Linked DNA regions of Homo sapiens: regions 1, 2, 4, 5 and 6 are each reported to be linked to region 3. The links are microRNA targets in miRTarBase. Many come from high-throughput screens and were not tested one by one. Region 3 holds a microRNA gene; each other region holds the end of a gene's coding sequence. Distances are between the middles of the regions.

Region 1 (5,093 bases), not on the chromosome of region 3:
AAGGCCTGCTTTGGTACATTTTTGCCCCCACCTTTCCCTCTGTCTGAAATGTCCTTTGCCTGTCCGTTCACTCAGCATCTTCCGAGAACCAGTTCAAAGGTCCTGTCCTCTGGGAAGCTTTGTGGGATCCCCTGACACTGGGCCTCTTTTCTGGGCTTTCGGCGCCTTGTGCAAACACCCATTCCATCACATATGACGCTGTTTAGTAATTGGGTTTCATGTCTGGCTTCCTCACCAGCATGGAAGCTCCACAAAGCAGCAGCCTGGTCACCTTTTCTCTTCCAAGTGCCCAGAACAGCCCCTGGATGCTAACAGGGGCGCCGTAAAGGTTTGTCAAATTACCACCGACTTTATTGAGTGCTTTGTTCTTCCAGGTTCTAAGTGCTTTAGATACATGATTTCCCTTAATCCTTACAACCACCCTCCGAAGTAGGTGGTATAAACCCATTTGGAAGATGAGAAAAGCAAGGCTTAGGGAGGTTAAACCACCTGCCTCAAGTTGACAAGTAAGAGGCACAAAGAGCCTTTGAGACCACAGAGCCGGGACTCCTAATGGCCTCAAGACAGAAAGAGCCAAGGGAAGAAGCAGGGGAAAGTGGCCAGATAGGATGGGCAGCTCTTCATCCTGTGGAAGCAGCAGCACCTGCGTCTCAGAGCCTCTCTAATTTGTCATTGGGATGGGAGGTTCTGGTGGAGAGGGGTGGCCTTGTGGCCTTCTGGCCTTTGCTGCTCCTCCACCCTGACCTCCCCATCCCCGCCCCGCAGCCCATGCAGGTGCTGTTTTCCGGTGAGGCCACCCACCGCAAGTACTATTCCACCACCCACGGTGCTCTGCTGTCCGGCCAGCGTGAGGCTGCCCGCCTCATTGAGATGTACCGAGACCTCTTCCAGCAGGGGACCTGAGGGCTGTCCTCGCTGCTGAGAAGAGCCACTAACTCGTGACCTCCAGCCTGCCCCTTGCTGCCGTGTGCTCCTGCCTTCCTGATCCTCTGTAGAAAGGATTTTTATCTTCTGTAGAGCTAGCCGCCCTGACTGCCTTCAGACCTGGCCCTGTAGCTTTTCTTTTTCTCCAGGCTGGGCCGTGAGCAGGTGGGCCGTTGAGTTACCTCTGTGCTGGATCCCGTGCCCCCACTTGCCTACCCTCTGTCCTGCCTTGTTATTGTAAGTGCCTTCAATACTTTGCATTTTGGGATAATAAAAAAGGCTCCCTCCCCTGCCCCTCAGCTTCTCTCTGGTTTTCTCAGCCTCTGTGTATGTGTGTGTGTTTATTTCTGTCACACCGCCTTTGAGTGAGAGGGAGAAGGTTGGGGAGCCCTGGCCTGGCTGTGTCCCCAGAGGGAAGGTGCTGCTTTTACTGGAAGGGATGTCCCCTCCCCCCATCTGTTGGGGTGTTTACCTTCCTGCCAGTAAGGCCCCTCAGGAATACGGGCCTCTCAGTGTACACCTGCTCCTTCAGGTCTGGCCTGAGTCTGCTTGCTGGCCCTTTTTTTTGCTGGACTTCTCTGAGTTTAACTGAGTGACACACTGCCTGGAGTGAAGGAGTTCTGTGGGGGGGACCCCCAGTGGTGGTGGCTCCATGCCAAGCCTAGGTATGTTCATTGTTTTTTTTTTTTTTTTTTTTTTTTTTTGAGACGGAGTCTCGCTCTGTCGCCCAGGCTGGAGTGCAATGGCGCAATCTCGGCTCACTGCAACCTCTGCCTCCTGGGTTCAAGCAGTTCTCTGCCTCAGCCTCCTGAGTAGCTGGGATTACAGGCGCCCGCCACCACGCCTGGATAATTTTTGTATTTTTAGTATTTTTGTAGTTTCACCATCTTGGCCAGGCTGGTCTTGAACTCCTGACCTCAGGTGATCTACCCGCCTTGGCCTCCCAAAGTGCTGGGATTACAGGGGTGAGCCACCGCACCTGGCTTGTTCATTGTTAATTAGCGTCACCTGTCCACTGGGCTGTGGGTCTGGCCCCTGGGGTGGCCTTCTTTTGAACCTCTGGGCAGATGGTCATTCTGGGCTTTATTTTTTGACAGGGGGAATATCCTAAGGCCTGCCATTTATTGGGGAATAGATTTTTCTTCTCGTCAGCTGGGTTCAGTGCTCCCAACACTTTGGGAGGCTAAGGTGGCAGGATCACTTGAGCCCAGGAGTCTGAGGCTGCAGTGAGCCATGATTGCACCACTGCACTCCAGCTTGGGTGACAGAGTGAGACCCTGTCTCAGAAAAATAAAAGAAGGTGTTATTTGTAATCCTTTACATGTAAGCTGTCAAGCTTCTCAGTATTAAGGAATAATTCACACACCAAATATAAAGCAATCAATACTTTCCTTTACATACTAGGCATCTAGAAAAGGGTCCTAGGCTGGACATGGTGGCTTATGCCTGTAATCCCACCAATTTGGGAGGCTGAGGCAGGAGGATTGCTTGAGCCTGGGAACTTGAAACCAGCCTGGGCAACACAGTGAGACCCCATCTCTACAGATGTCTTTTAAAAAAGAAAAACTTCTTTTTCTTCTCTTTTTGCTGAGTAAAAAGACACATCTACCCCCTTATATATACTCACCCACATATATAGGTACACATACCTACATATACTCACCACTACACCTTACACATAACCCACATGACATATACAGGTACACACACCTACATACACTCACCTCTCTACCCTACACATATACCTACCTACATACACACACACACAGAACCTTAAAGAACAGTCATTTTGTTACTCCACATTTCTAGTGATGAAATTTGAATTCAGATCCACATGGCTCTGTCCATGTGGTTTAAGCCCAAAAGCTATATAAGAATACACTAAAATGTCCCCATTCACACTGTCCCCAGTCATCTTAAAGAACAGTTAGTCATTTTGTTATCCTAGATTTCTAGTGATGAAATTTGAATTCTACAGAGTTGAAGGGTGGGGTGATGGGGAGAAGTTATGAAGAGCTTAGGTCAGGTCCCCTTCATGGACATTTAGGGCCCTGCCCTTGACAGGACATGACAGCCCCTTCCTCCTCCCAGGTGATTGATTGATTGATTGAAATAGCATCTCACTCTGTTGCCCAGGCTGGAGACAGCGGTGCGATCATGGCTCACTGCAGCCTCAGACTCCTGGGCTTAAATGATCCTCCTTACTCAGGAGTGGCTGGGACTACAGGCATGTGCCACCATGCCTGGCTAATTTTTATTTTTATTTTTTTGTAGAGAGAGTGTCTCATTATATTGCCCAGGCTGGTAGGTTGTGATGGAGATGTCTAACACACAGACACACGTACACACATGCTTACCTGCATCCACTTACGCACACACACCTACATGCACAAACCTCACAGACATTTTGCTTTGCCAGGGTTGATCTGCCAGAAATCTTCATGGAGCTTATATCAAGGGATTCATACCCACCTGCTGGCATAACTGAAAAATGTCTAAATATATATATGAATTTTTTTTTTTTTTGAGACGGAGTTTCACTCAGTTGCTTAGGCTGGAGTGCAGTGGCATGATCCCGGCTCACTGCAACCTCCACCTCCCAGGCTCAAGCGATTCTCCTGCCTCAGCTTCCCGAGTAGCTGGGATTAAGGCACGAACCACCATGCCCAGCTAATTTTTCTATTTTAAATAGAGTTGGGGTTTTGCTATATTGGCCAGACTGGTCTCAAACTCCTGACCTCAGGTGATCCACCCGCCTCGGACTCCCAAGGTGTTGGGATTACAGGCGTAGCCACTATGCCCAGCCTATATATGAAAAATTGTCTGAATAGATGATCTGTTCATGTAGTTTAAGCCCAAAAGCTGTCCACGTGGATACAATACACTGAAATGTTCCCTCTCACAGTGTCCCCAGTCACTGTTGCCTCTCCCACAGCCCTAGGGGTATCCATTCCTAGATGTAAGTCAATATAAAAACACTCTTCTCCCTCCTTTTTATACAAAAGCACCAAAGTATTCATCTTGTCCTGATTTTGCTTGTTTTAGTTAACAATATGTCCTGTAGGCTGGGCGCGGTGGCTCACACCTGTAGTCCCAGCACCTTGAGAGGCCAAGGCGGGTGGATCACCTGAGGTCAGGAGTTCAAGACAAGCCTGGCCAACATGGTGAAACCCTGTCTCTACTAAAAGTACAAAAAATAAGCCGGGTGTGGTGATGCATACCTGTAATCCCAGCTACTCGGGAGGCTGAGGCAGGAGAATTGCTTGAACCCAGGAGGTGGAGGTTGCAGCGAGCCGAGATCGCGCCATTGAACTCCAGCCTGGGCAACAAGAGTGAAACTCTGTCTCAAAAACAAACAGAAAAACAAATAAAAAATCAAAAAAACCCACAATATGTCTTGGACATCTTTCTGTAATGGTACATAAGCAGACAATGTAAATTTGGACCTTACTTTGGTCAAAGCATGTCTGTCTCCTCCCTGGCCCAGGGTCACTTTATGGAAGCCACCTTCTATTACCTGTTACCTTCCATGACTCATAGTCTGCTGTCTGCTTCTGACTCCTCAGTTGTTGGATTTCCCCATCCACTGCAGTGGGATGGAGACAAGCAGCCCCATCACATAAGTATCGGGGAAGAAAGTGATAAATAGGTTCTCAGTGTATAGGCAGAGGAATTTTAAAGGACTCCATGGTGGGGTGAAAGGTCTGGAAATGTTTACTTGGTGACTGCACTTCAGGGAGCTTCATGGGTGGGTAAGAGGGAGGGAGAGAATATTCACTTAGTGCCAATTGCCTGGCACTATGCCATGTGAATGTGATACTGATTTGACAGTGATGCCAACTCAGGCTTTATTTATTCCTGTGGGCAAGTGAAACCTCAGAGAAGTTAAGTAACTTGCCCAGGGTTGCTCAGAGGTGCCGAGACATGAGCTGAAGTCTGTCTGACTGCGTGGTGTAGGCTCGTTCTATTGTATGATGAAAAGAAGAGGCTGGTGCCACCAAAAAAGCTTAAGGCCATTGCTGGAGAGAGTGGGTGTGGTACGACCACACTGGGGGACTGTGGCGGAGTCAGCTAAAACTGGCCATGTGCTTGCCAGCGTTCCCACCCCTGGGTATACACCCAAGAGAAAGGCGTGCAGGTGCTCACCAAACATATATACCAATGTGTCC
Region 2 (4,970 bases), not on the chromosome of region 3:
CCGTCCGAGGGGGTGACATGACTTTCCTTTTTCTAACTCTTCCTTCTCCACCAACCTCTTCCGTCCAAAGACCTTGAATCTGACCTGCACGGTGTTTGGAAACCCTGACCCCGAAGTGATTTGGTTCAAGAACGACCAGGACATCCAGCTCAGCGAGCACTTCTCGGTGAAGGTGGAGCAGGCCAAGTACGTCAGCATGACCATCAAAGGCGTGACCTCCGAGGACTCGGGCAAGTACAGCATCAACATCAAGAATAAGTATGGCGGGGAGAAGATCGACGTGACAGTGAGCGTGTACAAACACGGGGAGAAGATCCCGGACATGGCCCCGCCCCAGCAAGCCAAGCCCAAGCTCATCCCCGCGTCTGCCTCAGCGGCAGGCCAGTGAAGGCGTTTTCCTAGCCTGGAGATGGGAAAATATGCTTGGCAGAGACAGGAATGCTGTGTGCTTGTTCCAAATGAGCAGCTGGCATCCGAGTGGTGTCCTGTGTGGGCTGATAGTTGATCACACATTGTGCTTTTGATTTTTGCATTTGGTGATGAATATTTTATACCCGTCTAAGGGAGAAAGCTAATGTTTTCCACAAGACTGAACAACGTGTATTTACACGAGGGTAGACGGCAGATGCCTGACAGAGAGTGGGTTGGCAGACAACACACTAGAATTTTCACGGGTGTGGGCACATGGGTGTGGCACCTGGACGTGTGCAGCATGTGGCGGTCTGTGTGAAGCCACCGTGCTTCTCTTTGGGGGGCCGCGAGATCTAGCATCTCTGAAATCCTGGCTGTCGAGGCTTTGAAGCATGTGTTACCTGGTTAAGCTTGTTTTCTCTTGCTTTAGGCAAATAAAAGTTTAAAAATCACCTTGTTGTGGTTTTCCTGTACCAAATCACACCTACCTGCCCCTGCTCACCCCCTGGCTTGTTTAATTATGGGTTATCATGCACTTTCACGGCTGGTGGGGTGCAGATAGTGCACTCACCCTCCAGAGAGCAGGGCATGGTGAATCACACCCCCAAAGCCCCTCCGACCCACGGGGCTGGGCTGCTGGCCCCCAGCGGCACCCAAGACGGCACCAGTCCTAAGAAGTGTGCGTTTTGTGCAAGGCTTAGAAAGGCCACCTAGTGATTATACCACGGATCTAAAAGTCTCTGTAGAGGAAAATGAAATGCAAAGATGGCTCTGTTCTTTTTTAGTGTGCTAATGAATTAGGAAGGGATTTCAAAAGAAAGAAGGCACTCATTCAGAATGATCACTGCAGTAGCCATGGAGGAAAAATAAAAACTTGGCTGCCTACACAAGGCCTCTTGGTGAAGTTAAAAAACGTGTTTAGGAGGAACATACCCTCTCTTTGAACTTTTTCCTCCTTTGTTTGGAAAGAGGCTGAAATTCTTCTGGCATAAAAATCCCATTTCAATATTTTAGTTTTATTGTTGCTTTATAACAGAAAAAGCTTTGATAATTAAGAATGTTTTACCTTTCTGTGTCATTAAGGGCAATCCAAATTTTACGAGAATTTGTTATATTTTTCTAAGGTAATAATACAAATCCTGAGAATTAAATATGTCCCCAGTAACATAAAGCTGGCTGAGCTGGTTTCCATGGCAGTAAAGTGAGTATCAGCAAGAATTTTATTTTTGTTATTTCTCCCTTTTCTGTCGTGCAGATGAACTTGAGCGGAGTTTGTTCTTATTGCGTGGTGGCAGCCGCGTTTTCCAAAGCGTGCTTGGCAAGGGTAGGCGCAGACAGTCTCAGTTTGACCTTGATTTAGTTAAACAGATTTTGTTTATTTTCCAGTTTAAACAGTCATTTTTGTTTAGCAATCGTGGTTCATGGGAAATAATTCAAATGGTTGTGAATTTCTTGAAGCCATATATACTATTTTTAATAGACCTCCTTTTTGAGCAGTTTTAGGTTCACAGCAAAGTTAAAAGGAAGGTAGAGATCTCCACTCCAACCCCTACCCCCACCACAGCTTCCCCCGCTACCAACACCTCCCACCAGAGGGATGTGCTTGTTACAACCGCTGCACCCACACTGACACGTCACCATCCTCGCAGGCTGGAGTTTACCCTGGGCTCGCTTCTGGCGCTTGTTACAACTGCTGCACCCACACTGAAGCGTCAGCATTGCCGGGGGCTGGAGTTTACCCTGGGCACACTCCTGGTGCTGTTGGCTCTGTGGGTTTGGTCGGGTGATCAGGACTCAGGTCCACCATTGTAGCATCATGCACAGTCTTTTCTCTGCCCTAAAAATCTTCCCTTCAACCACTGAGCATTTTACTGCCTCCATAGTTTTGAGTTATAATATTTTTTAAAAGACTTTTTTTTTAAAAGAATGAAATAGTCTTAGACATGCAGTAAAGTGTCTTTACAACGGCGCAGAGAGCCCAGTGGACTCCACAGTCTTCCTGTTGTTCACGTCTCGCGTTGCTGTGGGGCGAGACGATGGCCTCACCTCCGGGTGGCCTTCAGACCTCGCTGGGTTCCCCCAGTGCCCTCTCTCTGTCCCAGGACCCATCGAGGACACCAGATGAATTTGCTGTTCACGTCTCCCAGCCCCTCCGTCCTGCGATGGTTTCTGTCTGTCCTTGCCTTTCATGACCTTAGTGGCTTTGAGGAGTTTTGCTGGTTATCTTGTAGGATGTTCCCCAATCCAGGTCCCCAGTCCAGGGAAGACGATCTTCGTGTGATGAGACTGGGGATGTGTGCTTTTGGGAAGAGGAGTCATGTGGGGTGCCCGACATCCGCTAACCTTCATCACTTGCTCAGGTGATGTCTGCCTGCTGTCTCCCATGAAATGCCTGCTTTTTCCTCTTCTCCTTCTATTCCTTGGGAGCCTGTCTCAGCCCAGACCACCCTCAAAGAAGCAAGAGCATGGAATCACGTTCACCTCTTGGAGCAGGAGCATCTACCTCTGTTATTTGCAATTCTTCTGGAAGAAAGATTGTCTCCTCTCCCTATTTATTTATTTATCCCATCATTTACTGACATCTGTATGGACTCTTGTGCTGTATTTCAGCTCTGGGATGTGACCCATGTTTCGCCATGCATTTTCTTTCTTTTCTTTCTTTTTTTTTTTTTTTTGAGACACAGTCTCCCTTTGTTGCTCAGGCTGGAGTGCAGTGGCACGATCTCGGCTCACTGCAACCTCTGCTTCCCAGGTTCAAGCAGTTCTTCTGCCTCAGGCTCCTGAGTACCTGGGATTACAGGCACCTGCCACCATGCCCAGCTAATTTTTGTATATTTAGTAGAGATGGGGTTTCACCATGTTGGCCAGGCTGTTCTTGAACTCCTGACCTCAGGTGATCCACCTGCCTTGGCCTCCCAAAGTGCTGGGATTACAGGCGTGAGCCACCGCGCCCAGCCTACTTTCTTGCTCAGGTTTTTCCAGTGTTGGCCACAGGGAGCCCTTTCTGCCGGCCTCCGGGGTCTGTTCACAGCTGCCTCTTTGGGCACAGCCTGGTTTTCTGGCACTGCAGGACACCCAGGCTCATCTGTGCGTTCCCTGCTCCAGTCCTAGACCCATTTCTCCAAGGACCCCTGGTTCCTTTTACTGGAGGGTGGGATTAGAAGCCAAGATCTGGGTGCCGCTGTGTTTATGCAAATGAATATCTCAAGATATGTGATGCCAGTCGGATCACCCCTACTCCCTCAGGGCAGAATGCGGAGAACTGAGCACCTGGAAAGACATCGAGGTCGCCCACTGCCTGTGCCTGGAAGTCCTGGGCTTGCCCCTCTTGGAGGAAGTCAGGGTTCCGCCCTTTCGTCGCTTTTTAAGAATCCGTGCATGTGGCAGTGGAGGCAGCGAATGCTCAGCACGGAGAGGGCCGTGGTTGGAGCTCTTCGCCTGAGTCGTTTCATTTGACAGCTGTGAGGATGACACAAAACAAGGAACGGGAAGACACCAGGAGGGTACAGAGTCATTTGCCGAGGTATTGATTCTGTGAAAAAATTAAATTTTCCTAGAGCCATTTGGAAATGCATTTCATACGTTGTCGGCATCCCACTTCTCTGTCCCTTAGTGCTTTGGTTTTTTCCCAAGAACAAGGAGCAGAGTGTTCCCTTGTGTTTCCACAGCACAGCTCTTAAAGTCAAGGGACCCGACCGTCACACAGCAGCGTGATCTGCAGTCCATATGCTAACCTTGCCAGTCATCCCGATAATGTCCCTGGAGGCGTTCCCCAGCTGGAGTCCAGGATGCGGTTTGGGCTCACGTGTTGGGTTTAGTTGCCACAGCTTTACTTCTCTGGAAGACCCTTCTTGGTCATTAGTGACGCGGGTAATTTTGGAGAGCCCAGGCCAGCTGTTCCACAGAGCAGTTCTCCTTCCGGGACCTGCCCAGGGGTCTCCTGACTCCATCGGGGCTGCACGTCCTGGGTGTGTGATGGCATGTGTATTCTGAGAGCTCAGTTACAGAAAGAATGAGTTTGACATTCACAGGATTATGAAATACGGGGCTTCGGGGTGGAAGTGAGGCTTTTTAAATAAATCAAATAGCTGCTAAAAATGACTATCAGTTCAACAGCTTCTGTGGCCACCTCTTGAGAATCGTTAGATAAAAATTGCTGGTGCCCAGCTGAAGAAGTTATCTTCCTGGGAGATGCTGAGCCCAAGAGAGTAAAGGTTGTGTCTGTGGGAGTGTAAATGGTGGAAATTTGACTCAGCATGAAAAAAAACAATAGTTCCTCAAACTAACAATGTTAGGAGTCATTGGCTTCCAAAATGGAGTCAAGGGCTAACAAGAGTGAGACAAACATTTTTTGCAGACTAACTCATTCCTGCTTATTACCTGGAGAATGTGCTAGTGTGTTCAGCTCATATGAGACATAGAAGGATTTTGCATTTTACAAAAGTAAGTAAAACTGCCCATAGACTAATTTTTATGCTTGATTTTAGCCAAAGGGAGAGAAGTGATCATATCCCATTTTTAAGAAATAATTTTGAAGCCAATTAATTTCTTTCAACTCT
Region 3 (5,093 bases):
AAAGGGTTAAGCAACTAAAGAGTAATAGAGCTCTTAGAAATAAAAAAGACAAAGATAAACACCTCAGGGGGAAAATAAGCAAAGATATGAATATGTAATTTGTGGAAATATAATTAGTTGATAAGCATGAAAAAAACTTCAACTTTGCCAGTACTCACAGAAATGCAAATTAAAATAAAGAAAAGGTATGTATTTTCTTCCTATCAGATTGGTGTCAATTCAAAGCGATAATACTCAGTGAGGCTGAAGCTAGTGCCCTAATTGGTAATGGACAATTGGCGTATTAGCCTTTCTGGAGGCAATTTGACTACATTATTGAAATATTTCAAGATCTTTCCTTTGACTCAGCAAGTCTACTTCCAGGATTTGTCCAAAAGAAATAATGAGGATGGTTTCATAAAGATGCAAGAATAATATGTTAAATGCATTGCACATAATCTTTTTGTTAAAAGTGAACAACCAGAGGGCTGAGGGTCTCTGCCTCCATGCCCACGTCTCAAAATTGCTAACTCCTGTTGATTCCACTGTCTGAAGAGCTCTTCTGTGTCTACTTCTTCCTAGTTGCACTGCCATTTCCTAGTTCAGGCCACCATCACCTTTCACTTGGATTACTGCAACAGCTTCCTACATAGCATCCCATCCCTTTCCGGTTTACTCTCCACCTGGCAGGCAGGATGAGATTTTTAAACACAAATCAAATAACCTCCCACTCCTGATAAAGGTCTTCACTGGCCTCCCATAGCCTTATGTCCAACCTCCTTGACACTTATGGAGAGCTACGGTGATTCCAATGCCTGATTACCTTGCCAGTCTCCTCTCCAGACTGCCAACAGATACACTTCTGAAGCTCAAACGGGCCATGATGATCTCTGGGCATGCTGGTGTTCCCTCTCCTAGAACACAGTTCCTCACACTATTCTACCCTTTCCTAACCTATGTTCCTCACATTCTCCAGGGCTCAGCTTAGCAGGAACTTCCTTAGGGTCAATCTCTCCTGCTTCTCCAGCACTTGAGTGAAATGTAGCTCTTAGGCACCCACTGTCCACAGCATCCTGCACTTACCCAAAACCACAGCACTGGCCACATTATGTGGATTTAACTGTGGGTCATCAGTTTACAGGTGTCTCGGGTCACTTCTATCATTGCATGACCTTTTCAGAGAACACAAAAGCCTTTGCATGCCCAATATCTAGGGCTCCTTTCCTTATTCATACACCAAGACTTTTTTGTTCGTTTGTTTTTGAGACAGTCTCACTCTGTCGTTCAGGCTGGAGTGCAGTGGTGCAATCTGGGCTCACTGCAACCTCCGCCTCCTGGGTTCAAGCGATTCTCCTGCCTCCGCCTCCTGAGTAGCTGGGATTACAGGCACCCACCATCATGCCCGGCTAATTTCTGTATTTTTAGTAGAGACAGGTTTCACCATGTTGGCCAAGCTGGTCTCGAACTCCTGACCTCAGGTGATCTGCCCCCCTCAGCCTCCAAGAGAGCTGGGATTACAGACATGAGCCACCACACCTAAATATTCCTCAAGAAACTGGCTAAATAAATTACACATCTATACAATGGATGTGTACTTTACACATCCATCTACACAATGGATGTATACTACACAACCATAAGAAAAAAAATAAAACATTTACTTGGAAAACATCAGGAAATAGTGTAAGGTTAAAAAAAAAAGAAATAAAAATGCTGAACAATATTCTAGTATGCTGCTACAGTGTATGAAAAAGCAGGCATATGAATATATGTGCTGATTCATGAGTCAAATATCTCTCTGGAAGGACACTGGGAAGGGAAACTGAGTGGGTGAAGTCAAAATGGGGAGAAAGGACTTTCCCTGTATAATCTTTTACTGTTTGGCTTTGTTAGTATATTTCATATTTCAATGATAGCTTACTTTGGATTTTTGTTTAACTAAGTAGTCGTAAGCGTTTTAGACAAAACTCTTTAGAGGAGAAACACAAAGGCTAATCTTCCACCACTCCCAAAATGAAACAAAACAAACACCTTACAATTTCCAGTGCTCTTGAACAAGGCTGTGGAGAGGTGGCAGCGGTGTCTTCCCTGCCCGGTGATGGAGCACGTCACAGGGGAGCACTGCTGCCTTCTCTCTCGGGTCTGCTTTGCTCCTCTTTTGCAGTCCTTCACTCAAATTTCCTGAGCAGCAACCACTGTAAAATACTCCGGCTGTCCAATAATACTTAGGTACGTTTCATTTTCTTAGAGGCAATGTGAAACTATGACAGTTTCTTCTCACAAAGTGGTGCTGGAATCAACCTTAAAGGAAAAGCAAAACTACGAATTTCTACAGCCAAGAGTACTAACTACAAATTCTGCTTTTGTGTCCCATAATATTAGAAAATAAATGAATGGATGAACTAAAGAAAAGAAGAAGAAGGAAAAAAGAAAGAAAATCTTCTCCAACAGACTTCTCCTTTTCCTTTGACTTGGAACAGCCATCATGGCAAGACAGAGTGAGGCTGTTTCTTCTTAATCAGTACTGGGCTACAGAGTCCATCTACAACTAATAAGTTGTAATTCATGCCTTAGATCTGTTTTCCCTGCAGCTAAAAGATACGTTCAAGGGAGTAATATGCTCTGGATCTCCTGTATTTTCTAGCACTGATCAGCTACCGTGCATTATCTACCAGCATATGGCTGTAGAGAGAAGGACCTCTCCAAAAAGAGAACTGCAATGGAGAGAGAGAAAATTCAGCAGAAATCCCAAACAAAATATGGTAATTATGAAACATCTTACTTCTTGTCTTATTACCAAGATGAAAATAAATACCTCCAAACAAAACTGCTAAATTTAACTACCAAGATTTTTAAAAGTACACCCTGAATTCAATATTATCTAAGACATGGAAGAGGACTAATGGTACTCCAAAATGCTTAAGTGAGAAGAAAAAAATTCAATCTAATTGTCTTAGGAAAACATCAGATGAAATAATATGCATGTTATTCCCAAACAAAGGATGTTACTAACCTGAAATAAAGATAGATATTGAAAAGTTAGTCCTTGAGACAATGCGTATGCTAACAGCTGATACTACCTAAACCACATAGCAGAATGGTTTTCAAATCCAGGCCTAAGAAATACATATAAATTCAGATTCAACTAAAAATTAAGAGCTATCCTAATTCTGGCAGCCATAACGAATTACCATAGACTGGTAGCTTAAAACAACATAAATTTGTTTCTCACAGTTCTGAAGGCTGGAAGTGTGAGATCAGGGTGCCAGTGTGGTCGGGTTCTGGTGAGGGCCCTCTCCAGGCTGCAGATGGCCACCTTTTCCTTATATCTTCACATGGCAGAAAGACAGTGAGCTAGCTCTCTGGCCTCTTCTTATAAGGGCACTAATCCCATTCATGAGGGCTCCTCCTTCATGACCTAATTATCTCAAATCATCACACTGGGGATTGTATCTCAATGTATGAATTTTGCAGGGATACAAACATGCAATCATAAGTTTATTCTATGTCAGAACTTAGTGTCTTACCTATACAAGATGCTTTCATATCCAACATCTCATCAAGTTCTTAAAATAACCTTGTCAGGGAGGTGTTATTCTCATTGCAAGGGAGAAAACTGAACCTTAAAAAAAGAGACTTGCCTGGGGTCATTCACGTAATAAATGGCAGCAACCGAACTGGAACCTGGACCCTCAGACTCTAAGACCAATGCATGTTCTCTATAAATAATATTTGTGAGGTTTTCTTTTCTATCCCTTAAAGGCAACAGTTGTTAGTTAAACTTCATTTAGACAGAACATTGACAATGCAACCAGGTTATTCTGTCTGCTGATAAAGAAAGTCTCTATTTAAATTGTTTTTATAGGAACAGAACATTTACGTGCTTTTTTTCTAAGGGAGAGGAGAGAATGAAATGGGAAGAGAAAAAGACTAAAATGAGATCAAATACAAATAAGCATTTAATTGTTCCTCTTCTATTTCATACATCTTTTTCTAATTCAAGTCACTTAAATATAGTCAATAGCTTTTGTGCTTACATATGTGCCAGACACGGATCTAAGTACAATCTGGGTTCCTACTCTCAAAGATCTCAGAATGTAGCAGAAGAGCCAGACCTTCAAATAAAATTTTACCACAAAGTTTCATGAGCATTAGAGTTAAAAAAAAAAATAAATGGCAATCCAGAGGAAGAAGTGAATGCATCTTCCTGGGAAGGAGGTTCAGAGAGGAATGGCTTGCCAAGGATGTAGTATTTGGGCTGAGGAATGGGAACTGGCCAGCAGGAAGCATTATCTTCCAAGCAGAAGGCATTGGAGTTACAGATATGGATCCTACCCTACTACCTGCCTTTACAGAGGAAAAAATAGAAGACTGACATGCCTAGAATATCATCTTGGAAAATGGAGTAGTCAAATGTACACGGGAGTTAGCAAAACGGGAGATAAAGATGGTGCCAAGATTTCTTGCTTGTGTCATAAAGAATGTCATTAATGGACATAGGAACTCATGCAGGAGCAGCAGACTTAAGGAGAAAATCATGAATAACATTTGGGACATGCTGGAGTTCAGGTGCTTGTAGGAGAGCTCCACAAAGCATAAGAAAATAAGCGACTTGAGATTAGGAGGGATGATGGGGTTCACAGAACTGAGGAGTCATCCCTTAGGGAGTTTACAGAAGTATCACTTGTTTACTACTCTAGGTTCAATTTCTTAGAGACGAACAGAGGCTGAAGAAGGCTGTATCACAAGAAACAACTCTGATTTGTGGTAAAACCCTAGGAGTTTAAGAAAACAGTACACTACAACTCTTTCATTTATAGCAGTTCTGATCAAAACAGAGATATAATCAGCAAAGGTCCTATTCATACATTGGTTGGACTATAGATCTACAGATAGAATAAATAACAATTAGGAGACTTTCAAACACAGCTGTTCCCAATACTGGTTCTTCCCTGCAGTATTTGAGGGAGGGCCATTGTTTTCTCTCAGCCACAAGTATTTATGAACTTGGAACGCTCCCTCAAATTTGGGTGTTCTTTCATCTACTCGTGAAATCTCGCCTGTCTTTAAAATGAGGGAAACAAAAATATGAACCCATGAGGTTGCTTTCTCAA
Region 4 (4,979 bases), not on the chromosome of region 3:
ACGAGGGCTTGAAAACTTAAACATAAAATTTGAGTATTTTAAAACATTGTTTCATAGTTACTACTTTTATATTATTGAGACGTAACAGTATTTACCATCCTCCTAATTTTTTTCTTCGTTTTCCCCCTTTTCTTTTTTAGCCAAGTCTGAAACTAGCTGGGAATCTCCCAAACAAATAAAAAAGAAGAAAAAAGCCAGACGAGAAACGTGAAATTTTTTTTCCTGAATTGGACATGTGTTTGCAAACACTTGTCTTGAAGATTATGCTGTTTATGCAATAATTTGTGAACATGTACAGAGTTTTATATAAATTTAAACCAATTTTTAAAACAAAACTGCGGACACCACCATAAAAATGGAATCAAAAGAAAGTTAATTTATGAAATTAAGAGGTCAGCAGAATATACTCAGTGATGGAAGACACTTGGGAAAGTCTTTTTAATAGAACAAGAACGATCTTAATTTAAGAATATTATCCTGGTTTAACAACAGTGCCCTGTTTACAACAGATTGTGCCCTATCTCATCTGCAGCCGAGGAATAAAGGATTCTGATTAGAAAGAGGGTTGCCTACAGATTAGTAAGCAATTCCTTGGATCTTATGCACAGAACTTGTACCATTTGAATCTGTTTTATGCTTAAATCAAAGTGCTTTGATCAAATGCATAACCTGCCATATCTTTACATATTTGTTGGTAGCAATTTGTATTAAAGAAATCACAAGTGCAAATAAAAAGTCATTTATCATTTGTTTAACTAAACTGTCATGGTTTAGTTTACAATTTTTAAAAAGTTCTTAAAATACTGAAAATGCAGTTGACACTTGTGTATGGCTTATGAAGTTATTTTTGATAGTCTTACATTACTTGAATTGTTCAAAGTACAGTATATTTTAAATTAAGAAAAGTGAACTATATGTATTTGTTTTATACATTTAAGGCTTAGACTCATAAATAATGCTATTGTTTATGATTTGAAAACTTTCAGGCAAAATCCAATTTACATTTTTCCCTTCCCTAGCAATTACTTTTTTCCAGCTTCAACTCTTCTTAGTTACTAATACTTTGTTGACTTTAAAAATGAAATCATTCACAAACTTTTGGTATATGATGGAGAATGAAAAACTAGAGTCAGACAGCTTTAATTGACATTGTCAACACCTCCAGTTATCAGGAATACATTTTTTTACTGCCTTAACCTGTAGTGCGTAGAATATGCATCAATTTCTTGAAGGAGATTCATGTTTTTATAAGAATTTTCATGTAATTATTGCAATTGTGGTCAAATAAGGAACGTTTCCTGCTTGAAATTATATTGATTTAAATGATGTGTGAGATGTTTCACCATTTTCAGGCACTGTGTAATTCTATTGTAATAAACTGGCAGGTATCTTTGTAACTATAAATAGTGCATGCTCAGCCATGTACACTGTAAATAGCCTTTACCAAACGTGTTTGACAAGGACCATAATTAACATCACTTAGTGAATTGTGATAAAGAAAAAAAAGCCATGATTTATTCGATGTGATTGGCTTGTTTTTATGTGGCGCCAAGAACGAACCTGTTTAACAGCTGTAACCAATGGTACTGATCTATCCATCCAATGTTGTCATTATATTTGACTGTGGTTCAACAGTATTGCGTTGTCAGACTAGGAAAGCTAAACGAACAAAATGGTTTTAGTTTTGCTGAAGACTGGCCTTATTAATGGACAGCTTTCCTAACAAGAGATTATTAACTTTTATCAGGTGTTAACATCTGTTTCAGGAACATGGCAGTATGTTTACATGTCAGAAGTTTTGTTTAATTCTATGGTATTTCTAAATTGACTTGTTTAAATAAATTCAGCAAATGGATAGCATTGTTTTTTATTTGCTTCAATATGGGGGTAGATAATAGCTAAAGAGCCAAGGATGAATTTCTTCAAATGACTTTATTCTGTTAGCTTTACATAGGTGTTGGAGGATTCCTAAGGTGTCAGCATTTTGTAAAGGTACCACAAAGGAGAAGTTGATAGGGAATCTAATTTTAGAATGTGCCAAATGGTCTGTGCTCAACAATATAATTGAACTCTCTCAACTCTACCTCACCATTTCTTTATCTCAAAATTCTGTTGGCTTTGTCAAACGTTGGATTTTATTTCTGCAGCCTAGTATCTCCCCATTCTACCACCTATGCCAGATGTTAAAGACAGCAGATGTTTTGAGGAGAATGGCATTGTGGAGATGCAGAGATGCGTTGCTAAGTTGAGGTGGATCCAGTATAGAGATACCTCTATTTCTTCTTTATGGCTCAAGAGCTAGGACTTGGATTTTGTTTTAAGAGATGGCAGCTGGCCGGGTGCAGTGGCTCACGTCTGTAATCCCAGCACTTTGGGAGGCCGAGGCAGGTGGATCACGAGGTCAGGAGTTCAAGACCAGCCTGGCCAAGAGGGTGAAACCCCATCTTTACTAAAAATACAAAAAAAAAAATTAGCTGGGTGTGGTGGTGGGCTCCTGTAATCCCAGCTACTCAGGAGGCTAAGGCAGAGAATCATTTGAACCCAGGAGACGGAGTTTGCAAAGCCAAGATCGTGCCACTGCACTCCAGCCTGGGCAACAGAAGGAGACTCCGTCTCAAAAAAAAAAAAAAGATGGCAGCTATATAAATGATAAAATTAATTACATTCTCTTTCACATGCATGAGGTGCAAACTCTGTCACAAAGTATTTTAATTACCTTTTACCTTGTTTCATAGATCTTTATGTGACATAAAAACAGTTTCTGGCACGGTGGCTCACGCCTGTAATCCTAGCACTTTGGGAGGCTGAGGCAGGTGGATCACCTGAGGTCAGGAGTTTGAGACCAGCCTGGCCAATATGGTGAAACCCCATCTCTACAAAATTTGCAAAAAGTAGATGGGTGTGGTAGTGGGCGCCTGTAATCCCAGCTACTCAGGAGGTTGAGGCAGAGAATCGCTTGAACCCGGGGGGTGGAGGTTGCAGTGAGCTGAGATCGCACCACTGCACTCCAGCATGAAAGAGCGAGACTCAATCTCAAAAAAAAAAAAGTTTCTGGCACCTGAACAGGAACTGGTTTCCATCATCAACTCAGAAAGCACTAAAATCTAGGTGGTGATTCAGGGAGGAGCAGGGGAAGACAGCCTCCTATGGTGGCATGAATAAGATGCTTCCAGAACTAGTAGGGAAATAACTAACCTCTTCAGGCTTTATCAGGCCTGGAGGGGAACCTTGCTCATGTTAGCAAGAAAGGTATCCTAGAGAAGCCACTCAAAAGGCTCCCTAATCCAGCCTGTCTCCACATACATACTGAAAATTCTTCCCTACTCTGAGGCAGGGTGTAGTGGTTTAGGGGTTTCTCCAGACTGGAATCCTACCTATCTGTACCGACAATTGAGCAAACAACAGTTGAGAGAGTCCAAAAAAAAAAGTATTAAAATGTGATTGATGTAATTTACCATGTTTACTTTATGCATGCATTTTATTGGGGAGGGGAGGTCAGAATAATTCACCCAAATCTAGTGGTCTTATTTCATAGGCTAATCTGGTTTATATTTGCATTAAAGATACTGGAGGGCAATATTTACAGAGTTTAGTTTTTCTTAATTAAAAACAGTCCTCTATTAATATAGTGTGAAATATCTTTCAAAATTTAGAGTTTAGGTTTAAGATGTCTACTAGATATCTTTAAGATTTTCCTGTAAACTCACTGCACAAACTGGAATTACTTTCCAAAAGACTTAGGGAATGCAAATATGTTACTCATAAGATGCATTGAGTATTGTAAATAAAACAAACCATTTTTGATTTGTTTAAATTGCTCGTTACAGTTCTCTTGTGGGGAGGGACTTTGTCAGTCATTTTGCATCTTAAGCTAGACTAAACTTTTTGTTGTTGTTTTCCTAAAACCATAGGTGCAAGCTTTGCCGCTGGGAAGTCATATTGAATTAAGCACTTTTGAAAATGTCACTGTTTGTGACACACAATGTTCTCTACAGAAAACTTCTTCTATCTTATGTCATTTTAGCAGTAGATGTAGCTGCCTGCCACCAGGTGCAATATGTCATTTGCATCAGCCTTTTCAGTTAAGGAAATTAAAACTTGGCATGCATTAGTTCATATGTATGAGGTTGGCTGTGTCCCCAAACAGCAATTGCTTGTACAAGATAGAAGTTTGCTTCTCAGCTGGGCATGGTGGCTCATGCCTGTAATCCAAGCTCTTTGGGAGGCCAACGCGGGAGGATTGTTTGAGCCCAGGAGTTTGAAACCATCCTGAGCAATAGAGAGACCCCCATCTCGACAAAAAAAAAAAAAAAAAATTAGAAACAAAAAAAAGATTGTTTCTCTTTCATATTAAAGTTTGGGAAGGCAATCCAGAGCCCATATGACATTATGCAGGGTCAGGGATCCGGGTTCTTTCTATATTGTTCCTCCCCATTCTCAACCTGTAGCTTTTTTTTTTTTTCTTTTAATGAGATAGGGTCTCACTCTGTTGCCCAGGCTGGAGTGCAGTGGCACACTTCTGGCTCACTTCAGCCTGGAACTCCCGGGCTCGAGCTATATTCTCCCACTTTAGCCTCAGCCTCCAGAGTACCTGGGACTACAGGTACACACCACCATGCCTGGCTAAATTTTTTTTTTTTTTTTTTGGTAGAGATGAGGTCATTGCTATGTTGCCCAGGCTGGCCTTGAAGTCCAGGGCTTAAGTGATCCTCCTGCCTTGGCCTCCCAAAGTGCTGGTGTTACAGGTGTGAGCCACCACACCTGGCCAACATGTGGCTTTCAGTTCTTACTTGAAGACAGCTGCTCTAGCTAGAAACTTCCTATCGGCATCTGAGCCAGCTGGTAGAGGGCATTACCTCCCCCACCCCCAAGAACACTTCTTGGAAGTTACACACAATACATAAACTTCAATTTCAAACAGTTGCTTGGTCCCACTAGCCATGAAGCTGGATGGGACGTAATATTCTATCTGGGTTGTC
Region 5 (5,093 bases), not on the chromosome of region 3:
GCTTCACGGGTGGCTTTGTCCCACCCAGGTCTTACGCTGATTTGGGAAGTGTGATTTATCTCGCTTATTGGGAAACAGGTCAGAAAGAACATGTCAATTCCACAAAGTTGCAGAGCTGGTGAATAGCGGGTGCAGATTGCCACCTGGTCCTGACCCACAGGTGCTCAGCCCAGCTCAGACACGCAGTTTGTGGAGGTGCGCAGCAGCACCCTTGGGCCACTGAGCCAGAAGGGAGGAGCCTCTCCTGGGCCTCAGCTGATGGGCTGGATGGGAGCAGCGGGGTCTTAGTTCTCCCACATGGCCACCCCCACATCCCCTGCCCTTCACATCCTGCCTCCCCAAGCTCATCTTGCCCCACTCCATCTGCCTCTCCGTGCTCCTGTCCTCCTCTCCCCAGGTCTGCCAGACCCTGTGGCCAGACCGCTCCGCAGGGAGGGAAACTTCAGAGGACCCTGCTCCCTAGCTCTCAGTGCCCATAGAAATGGGGCACTCCCCCCTCCCCACTGCATTCCTCAGCATCTCCTCAGTCCTCCATTGGTGGGCAAGGGTGGGGTAGGTGGGATGGTTCCTGCCTGTTTAATCAGAAGCTGGCCCCTCCAGCTTACCCTGCCCCACCCCCAGTGCTGATCTGGAAAATGGACAAAACCCAGTGCTGATCTGGAAAATGGTCAGCGGTAGGGTGAGCACTCTGGGCTGTGTTTTCCAGAGCCTTTCCCTCCAGGGCAGGAGGACTGGGCACAGCCAGGAGCCTCCCCCCACACTGCAGCTCACGAACCCCTCCCTACCCACCTGCTCCTAGGTGGGCTTCATGCCTGCCCTAGAGGAGGAAACGGGCTGGGGAGTGGAAGGGTGCGCTTCCTCTGGTGGCCTGCCCTCACCAACCCTGACCCTTGCCTTGGTTTGTATTGCAGAGTTTGATAAATTCCTTGAAGAAAGAGCCAAAGCTGCTGAAATGGTTCCCGACCTCCCCTCGCCCCCCATGGAGGCTCCTGCCCCAGCCTCAAACCCTTCTGGCCGGAAGAAGCCAGAGCGGTCAGAGGATGCCCTCTTCGCCCTGTGAGCAGCTCTGTGGTTTGCCTCCCCAGATGGCGGGTCCCCGCTCGCACCCCGTGGACACCGGGCACTGGCCACTCCTACATCCCCAGCTCCACACGGCCTGCACACCTGTGTTTCCATGGAAATGCCACCGTGTCTGCTCCCAGGCCTCCCACTAGTCAGGACCAGCTTCAGCCACTTCTTTTCTCTGAGTGGTGGGACAACTGCAGCCAGAGACTCTCTCCCCTCCCACCATGGGCCCCTCTGCCCATGTTTCCTCCCAGGAAGAGCGGGCAGAGTGGCCCAGCCCCAGGCAGTGCTTCCTGAGCAGACCACCCGGACTGTCTTTCCTCCACCCGCCCATGGAGAAAGAGCACGCCCGGCCCCGCCCTGTGCTCACCTCTGCCTGGCTCAGCGACCTTCTCAGGCATTCTGCCCTCCTGGGCCCCTCTCTCCCTGAAGGGGCTTTGTGGCATCTCTGGAAGAGCAGGGTGTGCTGCACTCATGGGCCTGGTCTCACTCCTTGGACTTGTCACCTTGTGACATTTGGCTTATCAGCATTTGAGAAGGCTCTGCTGGGTCTCCATGGTGGGGGTCTCTCACCTTCTTGACCCTCTCTCCATCATTCAGCTGCCAGCCCAGGCTTCACACCCAAGCTGGCTCAGCAGCCGAGCCTGGCACCGAGGGTCCCTGCAGGCTCCCTGGGCAGGGAGAGGGCCAAGGACAATTGGGAGGGCAGCAGGCAGCCCGCAGATGGTGGCCATGTGGCACGCTGCTGAGACGACACTACCAATAAACCAAACTGCCACGCACACACTGCAGGCTCACACCCGCACACCTGGTCCTGGCTTGTGGAGGGACTTGCACTGGAGGTATTGCTCTGGCTTGCCTGGGGAAGTGTCACAGATGTGCACATGGGCCACACTCAGTGCTGTGGCCTGGCCTGCCGTAGCCTCACACATCTGCCTCAAGAGCCAGCAGCAAACAGCTTTGTGGCATCCTTGGAGGTTCCCAGTGACTGAGAGGCCTGGGCAGCACTAAGGCCCCTGCTCTGCTCCCTGGCATAGGCCTTGGCCTCCTTGCACAGACTCTCCTGACAGTCTGGCCTCCTCCCACCTCAGAGGTCCTCTGGCCACCAATTTATACTCTCTCCCCAAGCTGATCCTGAAGGCAGGCAGAGCAGCTAGGGGCTGGTAACATGTATTCCCATCCCGTGTCCTCACTGGTGTGTCTCCTGGCCATGGGCAAGGGACTCGGGTCATCCCAGGCCCTGGTCCAGCCAGACACCTGGCCCCACACCTCCCACCAGGCTGCTGTTGCTCAGAAGGAGAATACTGCAGCTGTATGCATCCCCGTGTGTCTTGGGCCCAGCTCGCTGGGTCAGTCTGCTCCTGTCCCCTCCAGCATGCACTGCCTAGGTCAGCACAGGTTCCTGATCCATGGTGTAGTTAGCCCTTCCCACCTGGCAGGACGGCCCAGACCACCAGCCAAGCAGGGAAAGGGGGCTGGGCTTGACGGGAGAAGAGACCAGCGACATGGTCGTTGGGGAGCATTCAGGATGGCGACTTCAGCTGGGGGTCATGCTGAGCACCAACAGGAACTATTCCAGTGAAGAGCAAGTGCTGCCCGACCCAGGACCCTGTGCCAGGCTAGCAGCCCTCCAGCTCCCTCCAGAGAGGAAACCTCTGTCTGGCTGAGGGTGGGACTAGCTGGGATGTCTCACTCCAGTTGCTCAGGTTCACCCAGGAAGCTCCTCCGTGGAGTGGCCAGCCTGATTCTAGCCCTGTCCTCTCTGGCAGCACATGCCACACCTGCCTGGGCCTTCTGCTCCCTGATGCTTGATGAGCCCCTGCCTCCTCAATGTTTCTCAAAGACAGACCCCCCTGAGGCCAGCTTGAATGTGAAGACTGCTGAAGTTAGCTGGCTTCACTTGAGCTGCAGAAAAGGTGGCTGGGATGGCCCAGGTGCACCCAGAGGCCCCAGCCCTTTGGCTGCCTTTGGGTTGTGACTTGGGTTGTCTCTGAGGCCCTGCCAGAGCTGGGCCTGCGGGTGGTGGGCGGTCCGACCTCGGGCAGTCAGTGCTCCGCAGCCTCAGCACTGCATCCCAGACCCAGTGTCCTCAGAGGGAAGAGCCAGCCTCCCTGCCTCATGGAACCAGGAGTCCCAAAAAGTCAGGAGCCTGGAGGCTCTGAAAGGAGCAGGGATTCCATAGTGCGTGAAGCTGAAATAGGCGCCCTCCTGGGGAGCCCCCAGCAAAACTGTTTTTCATACCCACTCCCAGAACTGCCCCGCTCCAGCTCCAGCGCCAGCGCCAGCTGGTTGCCAGGCATCATTGGAGAGGCCTGGCTGCCCCAGGGGCAGCAGGGAGTGGTGGACCTGTATGGGCTGGCAGGAGGCCATTGGCCATGCTGACAAGTGTCACCTGCCTTCCTAGCCTGGAGCCACCCCTCAGGTGGCCTGCTTGCACCTCCTATCCGGAGGTAGCCTGCCCCACCTGTAGGCAGAGGGGGCTCTTGCTTGAGGCCTGCACAGGAAGCAAGTATAGCCCCGGTGCCCCAGAGTGGGTTCCACTTAGCCCTGGCGAGATGGCCTGTCCTGAGATCTCTGCTCCCAGACCCCACCATCTGGGGAGCACAGTCCTTAGGCTGCCTGGTCCAGGAAGGGGGTGCGGCTCTGTCAGGAAACCTGGACTCTCAAGGCCCACCAGCCTCTCCGTGAGTGTTAGAAATCACAGATACAGTATATACTTAATTACACTAAATTATTGCTGGGATTCCTTATAAGCACTAATTATACCTGATTATAGGTTAAAATATTTATTTTGTCAAAATATTTTCTTGGGAATGTGTTTAACCCTTTCTGCGTTCATTGTTGCTGAGATGTGAAAACTAACCATTCCCTCCTGCCTACCTTTTTGGCCACTGGGCGGCAGAGAATGGCGCTATGTGCAGTTGGGCCCCTGGCACCATGGGCCTTTGGCCTGCCTGCTGCAGAGTAGCCCTGCCTGGGCAGTCTCCAGGCACTGAGCAGGCCATCTGTGGCCAGGCTGAGAGAATGACTGGCTCGCTTACCAGCGTGCATGGGACAAGGAGCTTTGGAGCCTCAAGGGGTTGTTGCTGGCCTGGGCTAGAGGGAAAGGTGACCATCCGTCTGTCCTCCTGTCTTTCTATTAGCGCCTCCATGTGAGTGATGGTGCCTTGGTTCACTAGCCTTCCCCCACCACCCCACCATGCCACCTGGTGGTCTTGGGGCCTGTGCTGTCACTCCAGCCCCTGGGGAGGAGAGGACCCAGCCCGGAGAGTTGGGGCAAGGGCTCCACATGGCCCAAGGGCAACAGATGCTCGCAGGGCAGCTGCTGCCGATGCTCACGCTCCTGCCCCCCTCCTTCCCGCTGCCACACCCCACCCTGGGCCCCCGCAGACACGCATCTCTAACTCAGTTGGGCCCAGCCTTCTGGATGGCTTGGGGTAGGCCATGGGCCCACCTGGGGCCAGGCCAGCCCCTGGGGCAGCTCTGGAAGAGCAGTGTGGAGGAGCACTTGCTTGCAGCCTGGCTTCAGCCTCTGGCACTGCTGGAGTGGTCCCTGGGAGCTTCTGCACTGTCGGCTTTGGGGACGTCTCACCCACTTGGGTTACAGTAGGCCTTCCCCACCCAGAGAGAAGTGTTTCCACCCCAGAGACATTGTCTGTCAGCCCCTGAAGTGCTCGCCTCCCCCAGTGCCCGTCACCAGCCCTTCCTATCTGTGGGGTCCAAGTCAGGCTTCCCCTGCGGCCACCAGCCATAGGGAGCAGCCATCAGCCCCCGAGTCAGAACTGCTTCTGTCTGTCCATACCTCCAGGCTCTCCCGGAGAGGGGGACGGATATTTATTTCCTAAAGTTTGCACTTAATTGTGAGGATTCTCAGGATTGTTGGGGGCTACTGAAAAGAGGAATGTGTTGAATGTCGCGTTTGCTGTCCACTCGTCCTAGAAGTTTAGTGTTTTTGTCACTGTCATGTGTTTCTGTGGGCAGAGCTGGTTCTGGAGGGTGGGTCAGTGCACCCGAGGCTCAGAGCATCC
Region 6 (5,093 bases), 120 Mb from region 3:
AAGGTGAACTATAATGACCTTTGACAACATCTAGCTGCCATATTCCATCCCCAGCCCCACACCACACCAGTTAGGAACATCCCTGAGTGGCCCCTCCAGGTCTCAGTTATCTCCAGACTAAAAGATGCTCAGAAAGCCAGCACAGTCCTGGGACCAATCCAAAGAGGAACAAAGGCCAAGATTAGGTAAATTGCCCTTGCCCGGGAATCTCACTCTTCTTCAAGTCCAACTTCACTAATTACCTTTCCTTTTAAAGCTTATAAAGGTTCCAGAACACCCTCCAATCTGCTGCCACCTCAAGGAAGCCATCTTTGATTAGAAGAGACATTGAGGCCAGGAGTTTGAGAACAGACTGGCCAACATGGTGAAACCTCATCTCTACTAAAAATTAGCCAGGAGTGGTCCCACAGGCCTGTAATCCCAGCTACTTGGGGAGGCTAAGGCAGAAGAATCACTTGAACCCGGGAGGCAGAGGTTGCAGTGAGCCGAGACGGCACCACTGCCACTCCAGCCTGGGCGACAGAGTGAGACTCTGTCTCGACAAAACAAAAAAACCCTTGAAACAATATATTCAAGTCAACAGAACATGGCCATGTGCCTCACACATCAGCATCATGGGAACACTGGCACTTCAGAGGCCAGTGGAAAAGTGGCAGTCCCGTTGGGGCTGCATGGCTGGCAGCTGACCACAAGCCCACACAGCGCTTAGGAGTCAAGTGCAGCAGTGATGGAGCTCACACTACTGAGAGAGCAGGGAAACCACACTGAAAGGGCACGTTTCTTAACCTCAGAATGGGGCTACTAGCCTCTAAAGCAGGAATTGCGTTTTGTTTAGTATTTCCATGGTCTGCTGCAAGGCGTGGCCTTTACCCAATGGATAAATGCGTACAAGGCTCTTGTGAGCAGTCAAGTTTCTCGAGGTTTACAGTTGAAGGGAAGTGGGATTGTTTTCCTGCGCATTTAAATGAAGGTAGGTGGGTGATCACCTTTCCTTAAATGTGTGAAGGGATGAGATAAAGAGATAGGCATCTTAATTGCCACTGATGGCCTTCAGGTGAGGACAGGCATGAGCCAACTGAAGCTTTGACAATTGTGCTGAACCCAAAACTTCAAAAACAAGAAAAAACATAGACTGGCTGAAATGATCTAAGTCAACAGAGCATGGCCAGCGCTTCATACAAGGCAGGACCACAGGGGAACACTGACAGCCCAGGAGGCACTGAGACAGAGGCAGTGGGAAGAAGTGACAGACCCCAGGGACTCCCCACCAACAGCAGCTGCTGTTGATTAGGAACCCCCAGTAGACTGTCAGGCACCTGGTAGTGGAGAGGCTACCAAGGCCCGGACTGGAGAGGAGCCAAAGGAAGAAACAGTGCAGTGCTTAGACCCCTCTGGGTCTGCCCGTGTCCATACCCACTAGGGAGATTCCATTCCAGAAGTGGACATATTCACCAACAGAGTGCCTGGGGCTCACTCATCACAGCTGCCCCTCCATGAGGGCATCTCACTGCAGCCTTAGCAGGGAACAGGGTCATTTGCATTAGGCAGCTGCTGTCCTAGGAGGTCTCGGTGTCCATACACTGCCATGTTCCCAAGGTGTTTCAAGCTCAAAAGTCTCATCTATGTCATACAGTCGTGCCTAGTTGGCCCGTCTCCAAGACCTGACATCCATCCTTCTACTCTGGCCACACCTGCCCATCTCATGAAATGGGCCTACTTTAGTCAAATGCCCTCAGGGCCACAAAAGGGCACCACCTGAGTGGAGAGAGCACATTTGACCTCCCATCAAAACCCTTCCCAGTTCCCAAAGACTAGTCACCATGACCTCATCCTGGCCCAAAGCCACAAGAACGGAATGCCTGCTACTAGTACAGGAGTAAGAAGCAAGGTCAGAGTTCCCATGCCTGCTGACTTGACCCTGTCAGAAAAACTCAGCAGGGTGTGTGCCCCAAGAGACTTTAAAAACAAAGTAAAGGCACACGTGACACTCCAGGCCAGATCATCTCTAGGGGTGCCATGCGACTGACAAAAGACTTATTAAGCATGCAGATTCCTGAGGCAATACCAGACTTGCTATTGAATCAAATTGTCTGAGAGTAGGGTCCTCAAATCAGTTTAACAAGCATCGCAGGTAATTCTGATGCCCACTAACATTTGAGACCAGTGTTCCAGATAGAATTATCCTTTTTTGGAAGACCTTCTTTAGGCCTTGAATCAAACTCAAACTTGCAGCCCTTCTTCAGTCACTTTTTCTGGTGTGCTGCTTCCTCCAATAAAGTAAGATATTAACCAGAAAAAAATAAAAGAGGCTGAGAGGGACACATGCCTCTAACAGAAGCATCAAGCCACTGACTTTTATTCCCATGAGCTCCTACTATGATGACATAACATGTCACATTTATTGCTCTTACCTACTTCCTAAGTTACTGCTTGCCTAATAAGGAAAAGGGCAAGAAATAAGAGTCCAAAAGACACTCAGAACACCAGCAGCAGCTTTCAAGTAAGGACTCAGGGTCAGGGTCTCACAACTCCTCCATTTCATGTTTCATTTACATTGTCTTCGTGCTCCAGCAGCAAGGCTGACATGTGCTTTGGGGTAGGAGCCTGGAGTATTTCTGCCAGATGGTCTGAGGTGACGTATACTCCTAGAGCCCAAGTGACCACCAGAAGGGACATGTGAGACAGCAGGCAGAGGCCATACATGGAGGATCACACTCCCTCAGACGTCATCAGCCCCATGCTTTATCCTTTGACTCCCCCTGATCCTCAAGGCCAGGTGGGGTGCCCCTGCTGCATGCTCCAGAGAACTGTGGGCCTCTCCTACCATGGCTCTCAATGCACTGTTCCATAACTGGCTTCTCCCCTGGACAGAGCCACCCTGGTCTCCTTGTAAGCTTTAGTTGGGCTTGTCCCTGAGTGTGTGGGGTAGGAATAGGAGTGTGTTCTTGTGTATGTTGCAATCTTTAGGCTCAGGAGACAAGGAGTTAGACCTGAGTCCTGACATGTGCACTCATTTGTACTCACCATTACATTCTATTTAATTGCTTTGAGCCAGACAGGCTGTTTTCTTTACCATGAAATATACTAATCATTCAAAAAAGCCTTGTGTTTAAGAAGACAGCAAAAAACATCACTTCAAAAAGGCAACTTTTTTTTTTTCTTGGCATCAATGAATATGCACTTCAGAAATCTACAGAGAACTTTTTTCACTTTGTATTTGTTCCACAGCATTCTAGCCAGGAGTACAAAATAGGAGCTCTTCAAGCAGCACATGAAGATGGCCCAGGAGCCTTCAGCCATCCAGAGCAGCAGAGCAGCACCTAAATCTCCACACACTTCCCAGTATAACCACTAAGAACACACTAGACCCTTGGCATTAGGGGATTTATCATTTCCAGTTCTATTATCTGGGAATGACTCCAAGGGTTTGTGACAAGCTTTTGAAACGTAAGTGCTAAGACGAGTGTGGACAAGTCACTGAGCTAATGAAGAATAGACCCACTGTCTGCTTGGCTCTGCTATTTTGTACCTGTCTTCACATGTGGGGAAACTTCATAACTGTGCCCACAAATCAGAGAAATTCGCAAAGGACTAGACAATGTATTGCCTGTGAACTTCAGAGGCAACTGGAAATAGTGCAACTGGAAATCAACTAGCTTCATACATAGGCGGATTTGTTTCCAGGGACCAAAAGCACAGAAGATAAGAAAACTTTTCAGGTGATGGCCATATTCTCATCATATCCTCTCTGTGTGGAGTCTGCCTGTTGTCACAAAAACCTTGACCCTACATCAAGTTACACCTTAACAAAGGGAAGATACAGGCATCAGATAAAAGGTACTTGTTTGAAAGGCAGCCATAAGGGAGAACTGAACTTAAAAAAAAAAAAAAAAAAAATTCCAAGCTGGTTTCAACAGTACTTTGTTTCCAGAACAAAGAAATGTTTCTAACCACATCTTGTACCCCTTCCTCATCAACTCCAGACTACCACAGACCTTTTTCCAAAACTGTGTGTCACACATCCAGGTCTTGTGCTTTAGAGCTGCCTCTCAGGCAATTTTAGCCAGCCATTTCTCCAAGTCCTGGATGTCAGCAGAGCCCACGTCCCCTCTTCCACCCTTGGCACTGCACTCCAGGAACTCCACTTTGAGGGGCAACTGTGAGAATTCAAACTCTTTGCCTTTCTTCCCCAGCTGAGCAGGGGCAGTGCTGGAACTGTCCAGTGTGCTGGGGGCAGCAGAACGGGTAACTCGTAAGGTGTTGCTGTGGGGCAAAAGGAAAGAAGTCAGGAGGCAAAATTTTTATACAGCAATTAAATCATATTAGTTTCTAAACATTTCAGCACTCATTTAAAACTTAACTATAGAATTGCCAATTATGCTATTAAGATTGTTGAATAATCCTTTGCATTTATAAGTCCCTCTCTTGGACAGAGAGGTGAGGTAGGTGGGGCGGGCTGGGGGGGTCAGACCTCACAGGGCTAGAAGGCAGGTCAGCAGTAGACCAGGTCACACCAACTTTCTTTCAGCCCAAGGCCCCCTTCTAAGAGGATCTACTGAATGAAGCCGTCTAAAAATATATTTTTAAAATACATGCTTTAAGTGTTATAAAAACATAAGTTTCTGAAAGTTAAGTGTGGGTAGATAGGGTATGTATTTTTATCTTGAGTCTATTTGGATATGGAGTTTAGAAATCCACCAACTCCAGATTCTCATATCTAACTAGGGCAGAATTACTATTATCCAACCTCTTTAACCACCAAAACCTTCCCAATGTAAGTCCCCTTACTGCCACCTGCTGGCCCTAATAAAGGGTGCATAAGCAACACTCATTTGTCGGCCTCCCCTTCCCCTTTCTGCTATCCAGAAGCAGAGGAATACATGCTGCCAATCTTCTTTCTTACAAAATAAAGCATTTCTTGTTCTGTAAAGTTGCTTCAAAATTAGTGAAGAATCCACAGGCAAAACTAAGCAATACCTTGTTTAGGAAGGAACACACACACACACACACACACACACACACACACACACTGTAAAAGTATTTTTAAAAAACAATACAAAACTGGATATTGCTGACCTCTTGAGGGAAAAGCT

The links. The annotated mature microRNA hsa-miR-3714 reads GAAGGCAGCAGUGCUCCCCUGU and lies in region 3 at 2,090-2,111, opposite strand. An mRNA with a match to its seed (bases 2 to 7 or 8) in the 3' UTR can be bound and repressed. Matches are read on the target gene's strand: a 7mer-m8 pairs with bases 2 to 8, a 7mer-A1 pairs with bases 2 to 7 and ends in A, and an 8mer does both.
Region 1: miRTarBase lists SMOX as a target of hsa-miR-3714. Seed matches in the 3' UTR shown: 7mer-m8 at 974-980, 7mer-m8 at 1,033-1,039 and 7mer-m8 at 1,149-1,155.
Region 2: miRTarBase lists MYOM2 as a target of hsa-miR-3714. The part of its 3' UTR that is shown has no 7-base or 8-base seed match.
Region 4: the mRNA of MTDH is a reported target of hsa-miR-3714. Seed matches in the 3' UTR shown: 8mer at 1,188-1,195 and 7mer-m8 at 4,713-4,719.
Region 5: the mRNA of TOM1L2 is a reported target of hsa-miR-3714. Seed matches in the 3' UTR shown: 7mer-m8 at 3,027-3,033 and 7mer-m8 at 3,458-3,464.
Region 6: the mRNA of SRPRB is a reported target of hsa-miR-3714. Seed matches in the 3' UTR shown: 7mer-m8 at 3,850-3,856.

Annotation. Positions count from the first base shown.
Region 1 is chr20:4,186,505-4,191,597 of GRCh38, forward strand. It overlaps SMOX (spermine oxidase), which reads left to right. Exons shown (of 7, transcript NM_175839.3): 7 at 766-1,223. The coding sequence ends at 903. Among named protein-coding and RNA genes, the nearest start is that of LINC01433, 4.0 kb to the right of the region's middle.
Region 2 is chr8:2,144,594-2,149,563 of GRCh38, forward strand. It overlaps MYOM2 (myomesin 2), which reads left to right. Exons shown (of 37, transcript NM_003970.4): 37 at 71-863. The coding sequence ends at 388. Among named protein-coding and RNA genes, the nearest start is that of MIR7160, 70 kb to the left of the region's middle.
Region 3 is chr3:16,930,214-16,935,306 of GRCh38, reverse strand. MIR3714 (microRNA 3714) reads right to left here and starts at 2,111; the gene lies at 2,047-2,111. The region is part of intron 1 of PLCL2 (phospholipase C like 2); the gene reads right to left.
Region 4 is chr8:97,724,460-97,729,438 of GRCh38, forward strand. MTDH (metadherin) reads left to right here. Exons shown (of 12, transcript NM_178812.4): 12 at 141-4,979. The coding sequence ends at 211. Among named protein-coding and RNA genes, the nearest start is that of LAPTM4B, 49 kb to the right of the region's middle.
Region 5 is chr17:17,843,602-17,848,694 of GRCh38, reverse strand. It overlaps TOM1L2 (target of myb1 like 2 membrane trafficking protein), which reads left to right. Exons shown (of 15, transcript NM_001082968.2): 15 at 912-5,093. The coding sequence ends at 1,060. Among named protein-coding and RNA genes, the nearest start is that of SREBF1, 9.2 kb to the right of the region's middle. RefSeq lists enhancers at 1-149, 3,908-4,428.
Region 6 is chr3:133,818,723-133,823,815 of GRCh38, reverse strand. SRPRB (SRP receptor subunit beta) reads right to left here. Exons shown (of 7, transcript NM_001379313.1): 7 at 2,324-4,263. The coding sequence ends at 4,050. Among named protein-coding and RNA genes, the nearest start is that of SRPRB, 15 kb to the right of the region's middle.